2 separate regions of the Homo sapiens genome follow, and region 1 is linked to region 2. Evidence: fine-mapped expression QTL. Tissue or cell type: blood mononuclear cells. Region 2 holds a variant in brackets; the other region holds the start of a gene. All regions are shown on one strand. Distances are between the middles of the regions.

What was found. PIP is the estimated chance that this variant, and not a neighbour inherited with it, causes the effect.
Region 1: it holds the start of PNPLA8, and the variant in region 2 is fine-mapped to the expression of PNPLA8 in blood mononuclear cells (TOPMed, PIP above 0.99).

The regions. Positions count from the first base shown.
Region 1 is chr7:108,522,906-108,533,396 of GRCh38, forward strand. PNPLA8 (patatin like domain 8, phospholipase A2) reads right to left here and starts at 3,230. Exons shown (of 11, transcript NM_001256007.3): 1 at 3,124-3,230. It overlaps LOC124901722 (a long non-coding RNA gene), which reads left to right and starts at 3,570. Exons shown (of 2, transcript XR_007060473.1): 1 at 3,570-4,740; 2 at 6,546-6,877. RefSeq lists enhancers at 1,152-1,687, 2,367-3,327, 3,099-3,218, 3,509-3,848.
Region 2 is chr7:108,411,895-108,422,402 of GRCh38, forward strand. All of the region lies in intron 1 of NRCAM (neuronal cell adhesion molecule), which reads right to left. Among named protein-coding and RNA genes, the nearest start is that of NRCAM, 39 kb to the right of the region's middle. The variant T/A (reference allele first, on the strand shown) is at 6,170.

The DNA of each region.
Region 1 (10,491 bases), 110 kb after region 2:
GCAAAAATTACAAAACAAAGATGACCAACAAAATCAATAAGTTTAATTGCCCCCAAATCACAACACTAGTAAATGCAAGGTAAGTGTTTTGAGAGTACATTCAGCCAGAAGTTAGATGGCAAAAACACAGGAAGAAGAATGTAAAGTGAGATGCTATCATCAACTGAAAAAAGAGCAAGGAAGAATAGAGGTAGTATAAATACAATGGAGGTACGAATAAAACAAAACGGAGAGGCTGGGACCAAACACTTAGAGAAGGGAATGGAGTTTTAACTAGAGGAATTAAGGGAATTGTTAGATGGAGACCCAGCTAAGGATGGAAAGAATGAATTTACAGAGTATGTCACTTAATTATTAATATAACAGTCAAAAGGGTGACAACAGTCTGAAGGTAACAGTACTGAGGAGAGCAAAGATCACCTGGTGGCCATCGAGCAGACCATCCAGAGGGAAAGCTCCTTATCTGAGGAATTCAGAAACAATTAGACTTCTCTATTAGCTAAAGCCGGCATCTGGTACCAGGATTCTTTCCCAGAAATTTATAAGTAACTAGAATCTCTATACATGTCCAGAATGTATGCATGTCGAAACTCACTGTGCAACTTTTGCTGATATCAAAGCACCAAAATGTCTATAAATGTAATCACTGATCATGACCTACGTGGCTAATATGGTCCAAGTTACCCTTCAGCTTCTGCTTTAAGGTCCATAAATACCCCTAAGAAAAAATCCACTGCGGTGAGCTGTCCTCTCTTGCTGAGGCGCCTGGCTGCACTCTTCTGCAGCACTCTTTCTATCCAATAAAACTTTCCTTTTCAAACCTACGGTGTTGTCGGTAAATTTTTCTTACTACCCTACTACCCCAAGCTGACCACTTTCTGATGCTGGGGCTCTGACACCTCACCCAGCAAGTACTAGTGTGGGGAAGAGGGCCACTCTGAACACTTTGAAAGTAAGGGAAAAAAGAGAAAACAACAAAACACAGGACTTGACAGCCAAGAATGGGGTAAAGAGAGGGAAGTGTTAAGAGAGCTCTAAGGTTTTAAATCTGAAAAATACGGAGAGTGCCATTTGCGAATATGAGAAAACTGTGAAGGGGACAATTTAATAGGAGAGAAAAACACATTTTCTTTTGGATTCACAGGATGAAGTAACAGTGGGACATTCAAATGGAAATGTACACAGACTGTGGATTTACTTGTGGAATTACCAGCATAGTGGCAGCAGAAACCACAACATTAGACGTATTTACCAGATGATAGTTTACAGTAATAATACATGACTATTTTGGGATCAGGCAACCTGAGTAAAGCTTTTCTTCCTTGAAAAATGTGTATTTGCAATACAAACTATATTTTCCATAATATTTCAGGATATTCACATGCCCACTGAAGTATATTTGGGTTTCAAACACGAAACTCTGGTTTAGGGAGAGCGACAGGGGTAGAGCCTTGAGTGCCACCCAGAGCTAGGAAGAGGAAGAAAAGACTCTAAAGGAAACAAAACAGGAGAAAAGCCACCCTGAAAAAATCAGGACACTGAAAACCAAGACAGGACCAAATTTTTTCAAGTAATGGATAATGAACAGAATAAAATACTTGAGTACTGCAGAGAAAGATAAGAACTAAGAAATGACTGGCCAGGTGCGGTGGCTCAGGCCTGAAATCCCAGCACTTTGGGAGGCCGAGGCGGGCGGATCACCTGAGGCCAGGAGTTTGAGAGCAGCCTGGCCAACATGGGGAAACCCGTCTCTACTTAAAAAAATTAGCCGGGTGTGGTTGCGCACGCCTGTAAATCCCAGCTACTCGGGAGGCTGAAGCAAGAGAATCGTTTGAACCTTGCAGTGAGTCGAGATCGCACCAAGGCACTCCAGCCTGGGCGACAGAGAGAGACTCCCAACAACAACAAAAAATGGCAGGACAGGAAGGTGTCTATGGCTCAGCATTCTAACTCTGACCTTTTTACAAATATATATTCCATGAGTGAAGCAATATGCAGCTTCAGCACAACCCCTCTAACTGGGGTAAAAAAAAACAACTCAAAGTACAGGCTGTTCTTGTAACAACTTTGCATGTGAAACAAGTGAATAGCTAAACTAGTGAAACTGGCCCTTTCATTCAACATCACTCATTAAAAGGGCGTTTACAAGATTTTAATTTAGTCCTGATATAGAAATAAAAAAAGAGATCAACATTAAGAAAAAGTTGATTATAATTACGAAATAAAAACATGTTCTTATATTGAAAGGACAACTAATTTGCATAAGCAATTTAACAAAATAGCTAAAATGGGCTTGATACAACTGCCTCACAAGGCATAAGCTCTTAATGTTTCACTGTTTAACAGCATTTTCTTAATACACTGAAACATTTGTCATTTTTGAACTCTCAGAAATTAGGACTGCAGAACCAGGATACAACTGTTTTGGAATTGAAAACAGTATTTTAAGCAGGATTATATGATAGTCCCTTATGTCACAACTCTCCTGAGTTTTTCCTATGAGTCACCATTTTAAAGTTATCATTGTATTAGGCGTGGAAAGCAGGTTCCTTCCAGCACAATGATAGAAATGACACAGGGATAGGAAGCACTGCAACACAGTGATTCATACACCTTATCCACTTAAGCAACAGCGGTCAAGGATAGAATCAAATGTGGATGGGGTCAGAAAGAGATTACTGACAAAAAATATCAGGCAGTAGAATCACCAGGTGCACACTGACAGTCGAGAATGATGTAGACTAGGGAAACCCTCCTGAGAGTGACCAGTTAACTACTGGAGAACACTACAGTCCAGGGGAAGGCAGACAGACTCTGGAAAATTGAGGAGGGAGTCGTGGGGATGGGACAGGGGGAGCAGGGCGGGACCTGCGAAACCAAATACGGTTTGCGCTTCTGGGGCAGCAAAGCCCACGGGGGCGGAGGGCGCCGAGTACCAATGAGCTCCAGGACCTGCGGGCTCCTTCCAGCGCCAGCTCCTCCCCAAAGCCTGGCGTGTCCCCACCCTCTCGCTCGGGAAGTGCCCTCCAAAGAAAGAAAGGACGACCCGGAGCGCCGGACAAGGGTCCAGAACGATCAACCAGCCTCCTATCGTCCCGCCCCTGTCCCCTCGCGGCTACTTACCGGGATGCAGGCCGCAGTCACTAGGGCTGCAGCGGCGACTCGCTCGTTCCCGGCAATGACGTCCACTCCAACCGGCCTGCATCAGCTGAGCTTCCAACACAAACACTGGCGCAGCAGCTAGGTCGCCACCCACTCAGCCCCGCCCCGCTCCGCCCCCAGCGGAAGTGACGCGCTAGAAGTTTGGGTCTACCCGCGGGCCGGGGTGAGGATTTTCCGCCTCGCTCAGGCCTCTGCCTCCTTGTCAATCTCCGTTCCTCCCCCGCCCCGAGATATGCGCAATAGAGCATGACGGAGCGCAAGGCGGGAAGCCGCGACAGACGTGTGTGCGTGCGTGCGTGCGTGCGTGATGCGCGAGGCGTGGCTTGCTGGTGGGGCGTGCTGTGCCTTGGTTGGTTGCCGGGTGTGAGAGCGGTGGGACTTCGTTTTGCCTTCCTGGGCGGGACCTCGGAGCAGTGTCCTGGTTTGCTTGTTTGCGGGCCGCTATTCCCTTTCAGCAGAGATAAGCCTCCCTCTCCGCGTCCCTGAAGCCCCTGCCTGCGCTGAGTTCCTTGGAGCTGGGGGCTGCGATACCAGTCTCTTGGAGGGTGGTGCCCGGCGCGGCCGCGCCCCTTTCTCTATATCCATTCCTGGGCATGGCCACCCAGACTAAATGTCACTCAAAAGCGAGTTGACATATATTACTGTATTGGAAGTTAGCATAAACCGCCCCACAAATGGTCCCACACGTAACACATCTTTTTAAAATTGTGGCATTTCATACGTACCACAGGGGCAAACTACAGCCCTCAGGGCAAATCCAGCCCACCGCAGGTTCTGCTGTACTAGGAGCTAAAAATGGGTTTCACATTTTTCAAAGGTTAAAAAAAAAGTTTTGCGACAGATGACAATTATATGACATTCATATTTGTGTCTGCTTTTTAAAGTTTCATTAGAACATAGCTTTGCATTCCTATACATGCTGTTAATTAAAGCTTTTATACTACAATAGCGAATTTGGGTAGTTGCAATAGCCCCTTACCCTCTTGAAGTGACCTTGCAATTACGTTGAGGTCGGGAAAACAGATCAGTTTCAACTAGTTATCAACCTCAAAATGTTATCAAGACTTATACTGTACTCTCAAGGCTTACCCACTACCCATGGGTATGTATGCTTTAGCCCCCTGTAAGGTTATTGTAAAGTCCTTAAGGAAGGGGATTCTTTGACCTGTCAAATGTAGTGGATGTTACCCTGATAGTTGTGTTGTTTTGATTTTTTTAAATCAAGGAGGGAAAGCCAGCTTGCTATGTTCTTGGGACACAGTGTCTGGATTATGTACATCATAATGCCTGGTAAACCCCAGCAGTGGATAAGCCAGACATGTTATTTAGCTACAGGAGAGTTAAAAGATGTATGCACCAATTAAGCCTTACAGGCGTGTGGAAGGAGCTTTAGTTTTTGAGACAGATTCCTCCTTGTTGCTAAAGAAAAATTATTCTGACACTTGTTAAAATGTCAAGGAAGACATTTAGAACTATTGCAATAGGTGCCATGACTATCACCATGGGGGAGAGAGATTGGCCTCAAGTTTTAATACAACAAAAACAGCTAGGATTTATAACCAGCAAGCAGACTGAGGGGTCAGTTCATGGAAAATTACTAAGAAGTGATATCAAGGGTCGGGGATATTCTTGTTAAAGTGACTTACAAGATTCTTGCTGAAGACAGGCGGAGATGATCAATTATCAAGGCTAGGAGATACTCTCTAAACTGACTTTGCAAGATTCTTGCTAAAACTGGACTCAGCAGGCCTAAGACAGGGGCCCAAGGATGAGGCCTAGTTGGGAAGAGGGCTCAGAGGAGCCTAACTAAAGTATGGTCAAGGAGAGAGCACCACCATTCCCTCTCCGCTTATGCTCTTTCATCCCCTAATTTAGTCAGATGTTATTAAATATCCAGATTTTCCTCCCATGTCAGAAATTTTCAAATAACGCCCAATTCCTGCTTCTCCATTCTTATCCTTCCTCTCCCTCCCTTGTCTACCACCATACCTTTAATCAGTCATGAAGTCTGATGAGTTTTACCGCAGAATTTCTTGAATCGTTCCTCTGCTCCACATTCGCATTTCCACTGCTCTAGTTCAGGCTTTCATCCTTGCTCTTCAGTTTCATCTAAACTGGTTTTCCAGCCTGTAACTAACCTCTGACCCAGTCAGTCTCTTCTGTGCAACCACGGTAATCTTTTGAAAGTGCAAGTCCAATCGTGTTTTCCCGAATTAAAAAGCTTTTGCTGGCTGTACATCTTCACAGAATATACCGAATGAAATTATAGGTTCTGACCCTGCTGACCTTCCAGCCTTTACTTTCACCACTTGCCTCTCACTCTCTATCCTCCAGCCACACCTGTACTTCCCCAGATACTCTTGTTCCTTTTCATACTTAGTGCCTTGGTCATGCTGTTGGCTTAGCTCCCCTTCCACCTTGTCCTCCTAAAGATTTGTTTGTCCTTCAGCCAGGAAAATCTTACCTCACTACTCATAGAATGAATCATTCCTTCCACCTGTGCTCACTTCTCTTATTGCCCTTGCTGCACAGTATTATAATTTATTTGTTTATATGCCTGCCAGTTTCCTGCAGTCAAGGAGCGTAAGGTAAACTGTATTGTCTGGATCTAGCGTAACATCCAACAAATAGTAGACTCTCTAAAATTCTGTATTATTGAATTGATTTTTAGTTTCATTTAGATTACTAGTTTGATAAGTTAAAAATGGAAAATAAAACCCATTTATGATTCTTTTGATGTTGGGCAGTTTTGAGACAAAAGAGAATTATATTTAATTTCAAACAAATTCAGTAGTATGCAAAATTGGAGATTATCTTGTGTATAATAGCAGACTAATGCCTTCAGGAAATCATCTATACTTGAAATAATGCTAAATACAGTAATTGTTCAACGCTATATTCTTTGGAAGCTGGGTAAAAGAGACATCACATTGCCCTGTATCAGTTACTTGCTATGCTCATTCTATTTATAAGGTTTATTATTGATTTATCTATTTTAGCTCTTCTACATCCATAGTCACTCCTTTCTGGTCTGGTTCATAGCTTTTTAAAAGAGCTGCTAATATCTTTATTGTTCAAATAAAACTTAACATTATAACCAAAATAAATTAAGCCATATTGGTGCAAGATATCTCTCCAGATCACCTAAGGGAGGGATATGCCAGAAAATAATTCTAGAAGAATAATCACCATGGTAGGCTGAAGAATGGCCTTCTAAAAAATGCCCATGCCCAAATCCTTAGAACCTGTGAATATGCTACTTTACATGGCAAAGGGGACTTTTTGCAGATGTAATTAAGGGTACAGATTTTAAGAAAGGAAAATAATCCTGGATTATCTCTGTGGGCCCAATCTAATCACATAAATCCTTAAAATCAGTACAGATGTGGCAAAGCGAAAGTCAGAGAGATCAAGATAATGAGAGGAACAATTTGACAAGGAATGCAGGTTGCCATAGGGAACCAAGAGCGGCTCCTGACTGACAGCCAGCAAGGAAATGGAGACCTCAGCCACACAGCCGCAAGGAGTTGAATTCTGTCAACAACCTAAATAAAACTGAAAGCACACTCTTCCCCAGAGGTACCAGACAAAAGCTCAGGTAAGCTGACACCTTGATTTCACCCTTATGAGACCTGGAACAGAGGAACCAGTCAACTCTTGCTGGACTTCTGACCTACAGAACTGTGACATAATAAACTTGAGTTGTTTTAAGCCACTAAATTTGAAGTGTTTTGTTTCAGCAGCAATAGGAAATTAATATAATTATCTTTATATAGTTTGAAAACATGAAAGCAAGGATTTTCTGTTTTGATCCTTAGCACCAAGGCACAGCAATTATTAATAAAGTGTGGCCCGGAGCGTTGGCTCATGCCTGTAATCCCAGCACTGTGGGAGGCAGAGGCGGGTGGATCACCTGAGGTCAGGCGTTGGAGACCAGTCTGGCCAACATGGTGAAACCCCATCTCTGCTAAAAATACAAAAATTAGCTGGGCGTGGTGGCGGGCACCTATAATCCCAGCTACTCAGGAGGCTGAGGCAGGAGAATGGTTTGAACCCGGGAGGAGGAGGTTGCAGTGAGCCGAGATCGCGCCAATGCACTCCAGCCTGGGTAACAGGGTGAGGCTCCGTTTGAAAAAGAAAAAAAAAAAAGTTAATTGTTCAGTAACTATTTGGTGAGTGCATATTGAAAGAATTGAATTTATTCATTCAGCCATTATCTACTGAGTGCTTACTATGTGCCTGGCACCAAGCTATTTGCTGGAGGTAAAAAATTGAAGCACTGTCACGGAACTCAAAATATAACCTTAGGTAATAATACTATTAATGTAGAAAGAGCACTAATGGAGACATGAACTGGATATTATGAGTCTAGAGCAGGAATACCTACCCCAGCCTGTGGTGTTGGGAAGGAACTTCTGAACCAAGTCTTAAAAGATGTTGCTAGCAAGACAGATGGCAGTAGTGGAGTGGTAAAAGTGGGAAGAGAAAGGAGAGAGCTTTACAGAGAGAAGTGATGTTTGTAATAAAAGGCAATAAGGCAGGAAAAAACATAGTGCATGAAGGGAACTATGTGTTCCATGTTTGTACTGGAAATGTAATATAAGGATTGGGTGAGAGCTGAAGAACTTGGACCTGATCTTCTGGGTGATCAGAACCACTGTCAGATTCTAAGACAAAAGAATAACATGGTGGAATTTAAGTTTTAAGTACATTTTTTTGGTACCATGAGAGGGCAAGATTTGAAGAAGATGAGGAGTCCTGTTGTTGTCATATTTACTGTTTTCCTATTTAACCTTTTAATAAAAAAATCATTCTTTCTCCACCTTAAAAACTGCCTTAAAGAATTTGCCTATTTATACCTGCAGTTCAGGCCTCTCTATCAGGCTTGAGACCAGTTTATCCAGCTTCCTGCTGGGACATCTTAGAGGAACTAAACCAGTGGGAAATAAACCAGTTATATATAAGGTGATTTTCTGGGTGAAGAAAGAATAGTTTTATTAATAGACAGGTTATAGCTAAGGTTTTGGCACAAGAGTAGCAACATAAAATTAAGATATTAAGGACACATAATTGTATTTTCTCCAACTTACTTTTGAATCTGAGTTAGATTTTACCTTTTACCTAATACTTTTGTAGGTTATTCCATGCCTTGCTTATTTCTATGACAACTCATCCAGTTGAAAAGTTGGAATAAGTCTAAAAATGCCCCCATATTCAATTGCATGTTAATTTCTTTTCTTTCTTTCTTTTACTTTTTTTTTTTTTTTGAGTCAGAGTCTCACTCTGCCGCCCAGGCTGGAGTGCAGTGGCGCGATCTCGGCTCACTGCAACCTCCACCTCCCAGGTTCAAGCAATTCTCCTGCCTCAGCCTCCCAAGTAGCTGGGATTACAGGTGCTTGCCACCACGCCCAGCTAATTTTTGTATTTTTAGTAGAGACGGGGTTTCACCATGTTGGCCAGGCTGGTCTTGAACTCCTGACCTCAGGTGATCTGCCCGCCTCTGCCTCCCAAAGTGCTAGGATTACAGGTGTGGGCTACCACACCCGGCCTCTTTTACTTTTTTATTTGAGATGGAGTTTCGCTCTGTTGCCCAGGCTGAAGTGCTGTGGTGTGATCTTGGCTCACTGCAACCTCTGCCTCCCAGGTTCAAGTGATTCTCCTGCCTCAGCCTCCCAAGTAGCTGGGGTTACAGGCATGTGCCACCACTCCCGACTAATTTTTATATTTTTAGTAGAGACAGGGTTTCACCACGTTGGCCAGGGTGGTCTTGACCTCCTGACCTTGTGATCCGCCTGCCTCAGCCTCCCAAAGTGCTGGGATTACAGGCATGAGCCACTGTGCCCTGGCGCATGTTAGTTTCTTATAGGCAAGTATCAATGTTTGCATTGCTTAACTTCAGACTTAAGGCAAGGTTGGAGTCCTGTCCTCCCTCACCATTTACTGGTTGTGATACTGTGGGCAAATAATTCCCACAAGCCTCCCTTTTTTCATTAGTAAAATTTTCAGTATCCCAATTCAGTAATGTAAGTGCATTATGATCTATGGTCAGAGAATGAGGTACTGTGATCAAACAGCATGGTCAGACTACTCCAAACCCCTCAACAGGGTCCTAGTGTGAAAACAGCATCTCTCATAGAACCACAGAATTTGTTTTGGGGAAAAGTTGTTCACGGAAGGAGAGAAATACAGGGCAGAAAAACAAAAAGGCCAGGCAACACAGCAAGCAGATAAACACTGGTTGGAATGTATGAATGAACCAGTGCCTAAATGCGATGGAGCAAGTAGCACTTTTCCTTTAATGCCAATCTATAGTTTCAAAGAACTTAGAGGTTTGTTGGGGACCAACAATGTTTGGAAAGGACAGTGCCAGGGATGAACATGTGCTTTACTGTAGGCAATACTTAGATTCCAGTTCTAAGCTTTGCCACTTATTTGAACAAATTACCCAACTTTTAAGTCTCAGTTCCAAAAGCTGAAAAAGATATCATTTATGAGGACCTTTTCAAGGACATTTGGACTCAGTTTGAGACAGAATGTCTATTTTTTAAAAGGCAGCAATACTTGCTTATATTGTATCATAAAATCATTCAAGTATAGACGTTACAGCCTATGAATCAGAGTTATTATTTTATCACTCCCAAAACAATAGTGAGCAAGATTCATAACCTCTCTGACTCTTACTTTTCTCATCCAATAAATGGGCACACTAATACTCATAAGGTTTGTGGAGGATTAAATGAAATAATACATGTAAAATGCCTAGTATTTATAAAACATATTTCTTGTACACATTTAATGACCTGATTATTGTGTTAGTCTTTGAATATGCCCTAGTCAATAAAACAGATAGTCCTAGCCCTCGTGACCTACACAATTTTGTAGAATGCACACAGAGGATAAACAGTAAATTTGGCTAATATTATTGGCATACCAATACTAAATGGGGCTGAAAAGAAGTTGACAGTGTTTCCAGTTATATTATTTGAAGTAAGAGGCTAGCTTGAGTCAATGTAGTAGGATGCTAAATTCAATTCAAAAGAAATGGCATTTGTGAGCACCAACTATATGCAAAACAGTGAGCTAGATATAGTTCCTGCCCTTGAAGGTTTGGTAGTCTTATAGAAGAGTCAGATGTCTACAGTCACCATGAAACAAGGAAAAATGAAATGTGTTATGTAACAGAAGAACCAACAAAGTACTGTGAGAATTCAGAGGAAGCAGTTATTGATTCCAAAAGGGGGTTAGAGATGGAGTTGTCAGCTTTAGCAAAGTAAACATTGCATGGAACATATTCATACTAAAAATATTATTTGTTGTTTATCTGAAACT
Region 2 (10,508 bases):
TGACAGTCCACTGTTGATAGGTACTTAAGTTGATCCATTTTCTTTAAGGAAACAAAACTACAGTAAACAATCTTGTAAATATGTTTATGTATACACAGATCCCCCAAAATGGAATTTTTGGTTCAATGATTATTTACAATTTAAATTTTGATAAAAAATATCAAATTGACTTCCAAAAAGGCTATTATGATTTACACATTCATAAATGTATAAGAAAACTGTTTTTCTATCTTATTGCCAACACTATATACCATCAATTTTCATTATTCCAATCTCAAAGGCGAAAAAAAACAACTGAGTCTTGCCAAAGTTTAGAGTGTAAGCCAAAGCATGAGCAACTTTCTAGATTGTTGTTAAATTTTACAAAAAAAAAAACCCAAAAAACGATGAAGCTAAATTATCACAGCAAATGTCTGAAATCTACACCCAAACCTGGCGTTTTGCTCAGATTCTAAGACTGTGTGAGACCTTTGCAGTAACTCCTTCCTCTTTTCCCCCTCATAGTCACTTTATTGTATTTTTAATGTTTTATTTTTATGGACAAAATTGTATATATTTATAATGTACAACATTATGTTTTGAAATATATATGCATTGTGGCATGGCTAAATCAAGCTAATAAATATATGCATTACCTCACATATTTATCATTTTTATGGTAAGAACACTTAAAACCCACTCTTAGCACTTTTCAAGAATACAATATGTTAATAACTATAGTCATCATGTTTTATAACAGATCTCTTGAATTTATTCCTCCTAACTTGTTTTGTATCCTTTGACCAACATCTCCCAAACCTCCCTCCGTTCCCACCACCCCAGCCCCTGGTAACCACCATTCTACTCTCTACTTCTATGAAATCAGCTTTTTAAAGATTCTACATGAAAGTAAGATCATGTGGTATTTGTCTTTCTGTGCCTGGCTTATTTCACTAAACATAATGTCCTCCAGGTTCATCCATGTTGTCGTGAATGACAGGATCTTATTCTTTTTATGGCTATATAGTATTCTATTGTATATATAGACTGCATTTTCTTTATCCATTCATCCATAGATAAACACTTCGGTTGATCCATGTCTTGGCTATTGTGAATAGTGCTGCTATGAACACAGGAGTTCAGATACTGATTTCATTTTTTTTGGACATATGCCCAGTTGGATTGTTGGATCATATGGTAGTTCTATTTTTAATTTTCTGAGGAGCCACAATACTACTTTCCATAATTGCTGTACTACTTTACATTCTCACCAACAGTGAACAAGTGTTCTCTTTTCTCCACATCCTTGCCAATACTTCCTACCTTTCATCTTTTTGATAATAGTCATTCTAACAGGTGTGAGGTGATATCTCACTGTGGTTTTAATTTACATTTCCCTGATGATTAGTATGTTGAGCACTTTTTCATATATCTGTTGCCCATTTGTATGTCTTCTTCTGAAAAATGTCTATTCAGGTGCTTTGCCCATTTTTTTATTTGGGCTGTCTTCTTGTTATTGAGTTGTTTCAGTTCCTTATATATTTTGGATATTAACCATTTATCAAATGTATGGTTTGCCAATATTTTCTCCCATTCCAAATAACCCTTTCCTCTTTATAAATCCTTACCACTATAGCCTTTGAAAGACAACTCAAAACTCACCTCCTCCAGGAAGCCCTCCTTGATTAATTACCTTGATCTCACACATTTTTATTCTTCCTTTACTCTGATCCTTCAACACTTACATATTTAGTCTAAATTGGCTTTTAGGTTTCCCTTTGTATCTCCCAATAAGTACAGTAAGACAGGAATATAGGGGGCAATTAACCAACAGACATCAATAAATATTTATCAAACATTTATTATATTTAGTTATCCAGCCAATAGAAATTCATTTGGTGCTGTATTGAGTCCAATTTTTCTGCTTTCCCAGGTTTGCCTGCCCCTCTCCACACTGTTCCTCTGGCTGCTTGCTCAGTGTAAAGTCCCTGCCACAGCCACCATCTTCTCTCCCAACACCATCAGCTGTCTCAGCCTCTCTGTAGCTGATGGCTCTGACTCAGCCTCTGTCATGTCCACACTGCAGCAGGAGCTACACCCCTGCACCCTCATCCTGTGTAGCTGCTATTATAGAGACTCTGGCTTCTTGAACCACTTCTACATTCCAACGAAGCACCCTGCTGTGGGGTATAGGATCTGGCTTTCCCAGAGGCTGATCAGAGGGTCATGGTAACATAATCTGAAAACAGGAACTTAAAACTTAATGCGGAAACCTTGACCAGTAAGAGACAGGAGACAAGAAGGAGCTAAAAGATCAATTCCTTGCCATTCCTTCTTGTGACAGACTGTTGCAAAGTACAGTGTGATCCCAAAGACCTGTCTGCAAGACAGTGTGTGTCACAGAGCAACCAGCTGTATTTCCTTGAGAAGCTTTGGACAGCTTGGCAAAGCACTGTTAGGTATTATTTGTCTGGCTTCCCCCGTTCCCTCACTATTTTTGTCCTGGAATTCCATCTCCTCATAAAACCTTCTCAAGTGAGCTCAGATTCTGTTTTCTAGGGAACCCAGGCTAAGACAATTATCTACATAAACTCTCCACTCTACATTAGACTAGCCCTGAGAAAGGGTACAAAAGAGGCATAAAAGAAGTGAATCCTGTCCACAACAACCTCACAATCTAACTGGGGAGGCCAGACTCTACCTATGTAACAATAAGTGAAAAAGACAAAGGAATGAATGAATGTAATTAGAGGGCAAATTGTTCAGTGTTTTAGAAAATGGGAGCCATTTGATACCACTCAGTGTACAGGGCCCAGAATAAAACAAAAAGTATTCACAGAGAAGAGGAAAACCATCAGATCTCACCCACGGCAGACTGCTAGGAAGAGGGGCTTAAAAAAACGCTGGGAAGACAGAGAAGGGGGGAAGACTGCAGGGAGTGTGTTCCCTGGAGAAGAGTCACCTTGGTGAAGCCAGCACAACCACAACAGTGGGCGTGGTAAGGAGAAGCAGGGAGAGCCTGAAGGACATTGGGTTTCCCTGAACAGAGGGGCTTGCTGGGGAGCAGCAGGGTGAGTCCAGGGTTCATAGCAGAGGGCTGTGGAGGCAAGACAGAGGGGTTTGGAGGTGAAGGGCATTTGCTACTCCTCATATTACCACAGAAGAGATGAAAAAGAAAAAAAATACTCCATTTCTTAGGAGGTTGCAGTATAATATTCCCAGCTTCTCCCACACCCTCCATCACACCTGTGAGCCAACAGCACAAGGAATCTGGGGGAAGAAACAAGGTCTTCTTGGCCCTGAGCCTTCTGGTTTCCCTTTCATATCTGCCATCTGACAACAGGGGTACCTTTCCTTGGCAGGCCTGCCTGTGTGAGCAACAGCCTGCGGTGGGACCTTGAGGGTGACAATGTCTAATGGAGAAGGAGGTACCTGGAAGCCCTGTGGCCGCACGTCTAATCACTTCCCCAGTCAGCCTGAACTATAATCAAGCTGGCACTTCTCCTTCAATCTGGTTTTTGTGTCGTCTTTCTCAAATGGTGCAAACTTGGGAGGGAGGACAGGAACATTATTTAATGACTTCCTAAAACATCAAAAGGGGGCTTAGATCTGATGCAATGAGAAATGGGCATGGCAGGAAAGAAGCATGATAAAAAGAGATAATAAATGCTTCTTGATTAAATGGTTGGCCTACATCCTAATTTCTACCCATAAAAAGGAGAAGAAGGCCGGGCGCAGTGGCTCATGCCTGTATCCCAGCACTTTGGGAGGCCAAGGTGGGTGGATCATCTGAGGTCAGGAGTTTGAGACCAGCCTGGCCAACATGGCAAAACCCTGCCTCTACTAAAAATACAAAAAATTAGCCGGGCATGGTGGCAGGCACCTGTAATCCCAGCTACTTGGGAGGCTGAGGCAGGACAGTCACTAGAACACAGGAGATGGAGGTTGCAGTGAGCTGATATCACGCCATTGCGCTCCAGCCTGGGCAGCAAGAGCAAAACTCCCTCTCAAAAAACAAACAAAAAAACAAAACCAAAAAGGAGATGAGAGGGCTCCGTGGTTTCCACATGGTTGCTCTTATGTAGTTATTTTTACCCTCCAGTGTTTTTCACAGTGGCCCTCTCTGGCTTTATTTCTGTCATGAAGTTCCCTTTTCCTCTGAGAGATGCTGCAAACATTTCAGAAACATTTCACTTGCTTCTTCCAGTCCAGAAGAGTGATTCTTCCATGACAGAACGGGCCAGCTGCTGATGTGAGCCCATCCCTCCAGATCAGCATGACTAAGATATTCATCTTCATGGAGCAAGAATAACTACAGGAGATTTGAATGCTGCATTTGCTTTAAATAAAACTGCAGATGCAATTCCAGGAGTAGGATAGAGACAGCAGAAAAACAGCACATTTCTTTTATAGTATCATAGTGTCTATTTTAATCAGCATATTACAGATGTTTTGAGACATTCTAGCAAAATTGACATGGTTGACAACGCTAGACAGAACTGCCTCACGGGGGAAAAGAGGAAAAGATTAAACCACAGGCGTGTGGCAAAGGAACCTGCTTTGTCAGAACTATGCTTTGTCATCACCGCTGAGATCAGAGAGCTGTTTCTATGGCAGCAGGCAACATGTTCTGGCCAGGAGACAATCATGTAGGGATTTTTAATTTCATTTGATGTCTAATTGCCTACTACTTCGGGAAAGAGACAAATAATTAAAAAAAAAAAGTCTTCCTTAACTAGACAGACTAATACCCCCAAGGAAAAACTTGGGTTTTTATAGTATGCTTTTCAAGATTTGAATTTCATGTCTGTATAGTTGAAGGCATGGGACCTTCTCCAACAAGGCAGAATGAAACCAGTAAAAAGGAAAGGAAACTCAGATGAAATTTCCATCACTGCAGAGCAGTTCACACATCCTGTTAATTACTATTGCCATTCATAATTAAGGGAGGTTCCTCATGGATCTTACTAACCCTTCTATCAAACAGCACCTACTCTTGCAAACCATTGGAAGAGGTTGTGCTATTTATGACAGGTCCCTCCCATTTCAGATCCATGCTGTTCATTTCCCTGAGCAATTAACGGACATTACAAACACATATTCTCCAGAGAGATTCCTAGTTTGGGAACATCACTTTTCAGATGTTGCTACTGTTGTCACTGACCATTTATTTCAATGTTTTCCATCTTCCCTTAAAGAGTAAGTGATTGAATGTCTCATGATTCTCTGCTTTTGCAACATAACACGCTTCCCTCCATTTGATCAAATAATACTGGTGCTTCTAAGGATCCTTTAAGCTAATAGCCAACAGTAGCCTATTTTAATTGCTATGGAGATGTCTTAGTTTGTTTGAAGCTGTTATAACAGAAAACCTGAGACTGGGTAACTTATAAGGACAGAAATTTATTGGCTCACAATTCTGGAGTCTGAGAAGTCCAGTATCAAGGTGCAGACATCTGGTGACGACCTTGTAGTTGCGTCATCCCATGGCAAAAGGCAGAAGGACAAGAGAGAGCAAGAGAGACACAGGGAAGGGGGCCAAACTCATCCTTTTATAATAACAACAATCCTACCTATAAGGGTGGAGCCCTCATGGCCTAATCATCTCTCAACAGTCCCACCTCTTCATACTGTTACAAAGGCAATTAAATTTCAACGCGAATTTTGGAGGGGACAAACATCCTAACCCTAGCGAAAGAAAACAAATAATTTTCTGGTAACTGAGGTAAATATTCCAGCAATTTGATTGGGAGTTCATGTCATAATGAGCTATAATTTTTTCTTTTTAATTCAGATGTCCAGAACTCAACTTCTAAATCTCTGGACACTAGGCAGATGGCTCTTTCTTTTCTTTTCTTTTCTCTGCTCTTCTCTTTCTTTCTTTTTCACTCTCTTTCTTTTTTCTTTTGCAAGTTACAGAGGTGACACTGGTGTTAATACCTGGTTAAATACCACTCACGGACAGTCACTCATTGCCCAGCTTTCCAATACTATGGCAGCCCTTAAGCTGCAATGAATTAACAATTTGTACACAAAGTGGGCAACAATTCTCAATATCACAAACCAAACTGCAACCTTTTAGCCATTTAGCACTGAAAGTTGCTATCACTAACACTGAACCAATGGGATGCACCCTGACTTCAGCAGAAGAATAAAAGCATGGAGCTCTGGAAACCCCTCTGCTCTTACA[T/A]CATGCCCACAGAAGCAACACCTGTGACACGCAGACCAAGAAATGACTTCTAGGTGACCAGGAGCCGTGTGGTCACTCAATTCCTTGAGTCATGGCTACCACAGGTCTGCATTTCTGTGGTCTTCCCCACAGTTCAAGGCCAGTGCAAAAGGACTTGCTGACTTGTATTTCTGGAGATTCTCTCCAGAAATTGGTAGAGATTCTCTCACCAAACAAAAGATTTCTGTGCTTCTATGAAGCACACAATATCAAAGCATCTATTGAGAAGAAAGACAAGTCCACTCACAGAATAATATGCAGGAGGGCATCTCCAGGGACACCAATCACGGCTAGGATCTTAGGACAAATGTTTTCCTGAAGAGCATAATAATAGATGGGACAAACGATGACATTCTGACTTGAAGTGGTCAGCACCACAGCCTGCCTGTGAAAGCAGCATTGGCCTGACCACACACTGGCTGGGAAGGGAGAGGTCTTTTATCTGGTATACATATTATACACACACACACACACACACACACACACACACACACACACGCACTGAAAGTTGCTATCACTAAGTATATATATATTCACCCATGTGTGAACAATTATTGAGCACGTAAGCACTTAGAAAATACACACCATCCTCATTTTCAAGTTATAATGAAGGCCCATACTTAACATGATTGATTAAAATGGTTTGATATAATTTCAACATTTTAATACAACTGTGTGGATTTTTTTCTGGCTTATTTTATAGCATAAACATTTATTTGACCATCAGTGTATAGGCTTTTGAATATGACACAAGTAACAAGTCTAATAACATCATGCCACATAAATATTCTGGGGAAAAAAATCTGCTCAAAATTTGAAAAATCGAGTGTTTCAGGAATGACTCTTCCCTACCCATAACTTCCAAAAATATCCCCTAGTCCTTCTGATATTGAGAGGCACTAACAGGATATATGTATACTTAACTAGTTTCACACACACACACAAAAAATCACCGTATGTCCGCTCTGGTTAGGGCTTATCGTATGTATTTCCTTTCATTGCCATCTGATTCATTGCTTCATCTTTTCTTTAAGTAAAAGGAGTGCCCTCATCCCCGTAACTGTTCTTAGAAGATAACGTTAGTCATTGTATTCCTACAATATGCTTCTCATCTGGCAGTTAATTTCCCCAGAGGGTACTGCAGACGTTTTATTTTCAGATAATCTCCAATTAGCTTCCTCTCTTCGTTACCCTGACCAGCTCACTTTCATAATTTTCTCCTATACATCCTCCTCCTCTTAACATATTTCTTACTTCACAGGGAAGAATATGATTTATATTGCTTTTCATTTACCTCACTTCTTTCCTGTTTACCTGCTTGCTACAGATTTTGCATTTTAATATCCAAAATCCAACATAAAATAAAGCTGCATGTTTCATCAAATGTTGCTCTTCCCATCTGAGCTCACTTTGCATTCAGTCCTTTTCTTCATGAGTTTGGCAGTATATATAGAGTTTGAGGTATATATTATATGTACTCACAAACAGGCATGCTTAAGCCATACAAAAGTGGGAGCTCACCCAGGTGCTCTCATTTCAAAGGCACTTCTTTTCTCTCAGAAAGTTACATGTCTCCACTTTCGTGTCCACACACAAAATTCCTTTATCCAAGATAAAAACTTTTAATGTCAAAACTAGAGATATAGTTTAAAGCAGAACAGGTAAATAAATAACTTAAATTTTCACTAGTGGATGAAAGTTGGATTCTTTCTTGAGAACAGGTTTTGATGTCGGGGTGAGGGTGTCCAGTAGGCATTAAGTCTGTCCAGGTGCACCTCAGAGAAGGGAAATGAGTGTATGTAAAAAGGAGAAACTGAGGCCACTGAATACACTTCACTTGGTTTTCCATTTTATGTACAACACAGTCATCTTCTAGTTATTTGGTAGCAAACCAAGAATTTACAAATTTAAGTACTTACAAATATTTTAGTTCCATCGTGTGTGTGTGTGTGTGTGTGTGTGTGTGTGTTTATTTTTAATTTTCAAGTATTTGAATCTACAAAAGAATATCCTTTCAGAACATCTGTACCCAGTTAAGGAATCTGGGAAAGAAAACAGAAGTGGACTGAAATGTGTTGGTCTTATCTTTGTCTGGCCTCTATGAATATCTTGACTGTCATCAAAAATATCTCTTTAGTAGATATTACTATAGAGATTCTGCTTTTCAGACACACACAAATCCTTGCAGACACTTGATGTCTGATGAGTGTCTCTTTTATGCATTTTGACTTCTGAGAAGGTCTCTATCCCCAAACAGTGAGCACTACTTTGCTAAAAAAAGTCTGTGTGTTCTGAATAAATGGAAACGTCTTACCAATATATGAATTGCTGATCTTTAAAGTAAATAAATAGGCGAATAGATTCTTATCCACATTTCTTCTAGCCACAAATTTTAAGGAAATCCTGCAGTCCTTTACAAGGGGGGGAGTTTCTCAGCTAGATGGAAAGATATGACGACAATTTCCCCATTCACAAAACATTTCCTGTCTCCGTAAGTACCCACTGCCCAATTACTCATTTTACACTTATTCTGTGTGAATTTACATTGTGACTTGGCATTTTTAGGCATCCGTGGTTCCTACTGATTTCCTCTGGTCCCCATTGGTTTCCTTTCTTAGGCTTTACTGAATCTCCCAAGGGCCAAAGTAGAAACCCAATTAATGCGTGCATAACCTAGATGGCTCATGCCCTTACTTTTACATTCTTTCCATTGCATGACACTGTCTTGGAGCTCTTTAAGGAAGCATCTTTCAAAATCTTGTGTGTGAGAGAGAGAAAAGACTCACAGAAGGAAATGTAGAATGGGAAGAAACTATTCATGAGGAATATCTCTTTAATATAGTAAGAGCATGTTGGTAGAAAAATAAAGACTGCTTGATAACTAAAGGTTAATAAAAACCACAACTGTTGGAAAGCAAAGACATAACTTCATTCCCCCACATACCCCAAAATAGCATACACAGAAAAGCAACTCTACATAGCCAGTTAAGAAGGATTAATTATGCCTCTACCATGAGCTCAACATTATGGTAGGTGCTTAGCGAAAAAAAGACTATAAGTGTAGATGTATATATGTGTGTGTATAAAACGTGTAAAACAATATAAAAGAATAATATCTTATGTTAGATGGAGTGGAATAGGCTGAAAGCATTAGGAGAGAAATTAGTGTGAGCCGGATATTAGTATATTTTAGCTAATTTGCAAAAACTCATCTTTGACTAGTCATGCTAAAGTATTGCCTATAATATCACATGCCATTTATCAATGTTTACATGTCTCATGATCATATATTCAAATGTTGATAATTATTCAATAATATAGACCATTGCAAGACTAAGTCACCCCCAATGAGAAATGTAATTCAAACCTGTAAACCTACTGAAAATGGACTGAAATAAAGAATGTGAATGCATTTTGTAGAAGGAAAAGTATTATTCATGAAGTAGATATTAGAATCATTATTACTATTGTCATCTTTCTCATAAGATTACTTGAAGAAAAAAAAGTACAAAGTTAAAATACAAAATGATGTCAATTCTGTTTATTAAATAAAAGAGGCAGGTATTGTTTTCCCTGTATTCCAGATAAGGAACTGAAGCTATTCAATCTACAACTTAAGAAAAATCAATTGGGTAGCAACCACTGACAGAGTAAATCATTTTGTTCTTCAATCATCTTGTATTTCTGACCAAACTGCACAGTTTATTTTGAGAACTCTGTGGTTTTAGTTTAGGATTTTAGGAGTCTAGAGAGACTTCTGACCTGCCCTGTGGAGATTAACGACATACTTAATTCTGTTTGTCTAACAGCAGGCAAAAGATCTGACTAGCAGAATGGCAGCAACCTTTTCCACTAAAACGAAGGTATGTTTATGGCATGCCACATACAGTGGAACAGTAGTCAAAATAGTCAAAACAGGTCTATTGGAAGTGGGGATTCCAACCTCCTCCACAGCAAAATACATTTCATTGATAACACCTCCTCCAAGAGCCACTTCACGAGTTCTTAGGTCAGAGTATGCTCCTCCCTTCTGTCTCTCTTCTCTAAGCTGCAATACCAGTCACACAGCCTTCAAGCTCTATGTTCCATTCTACAATAAATGTTTCAAATAAATTCCAACATGACTTAATGTTCTAAGCTTAAAATGCCATGTTATAGTAGCTAACATTTATTTAGTGCTATATGCCAGGCAGTGCAGTAAACACTTTACATGGATTATCTTATTTCATCAACTGTTTTGGGAGGTGGGACTATTATTACCCCATTTTCACACATTAAAAAAACAATGCCAAAGAAACTA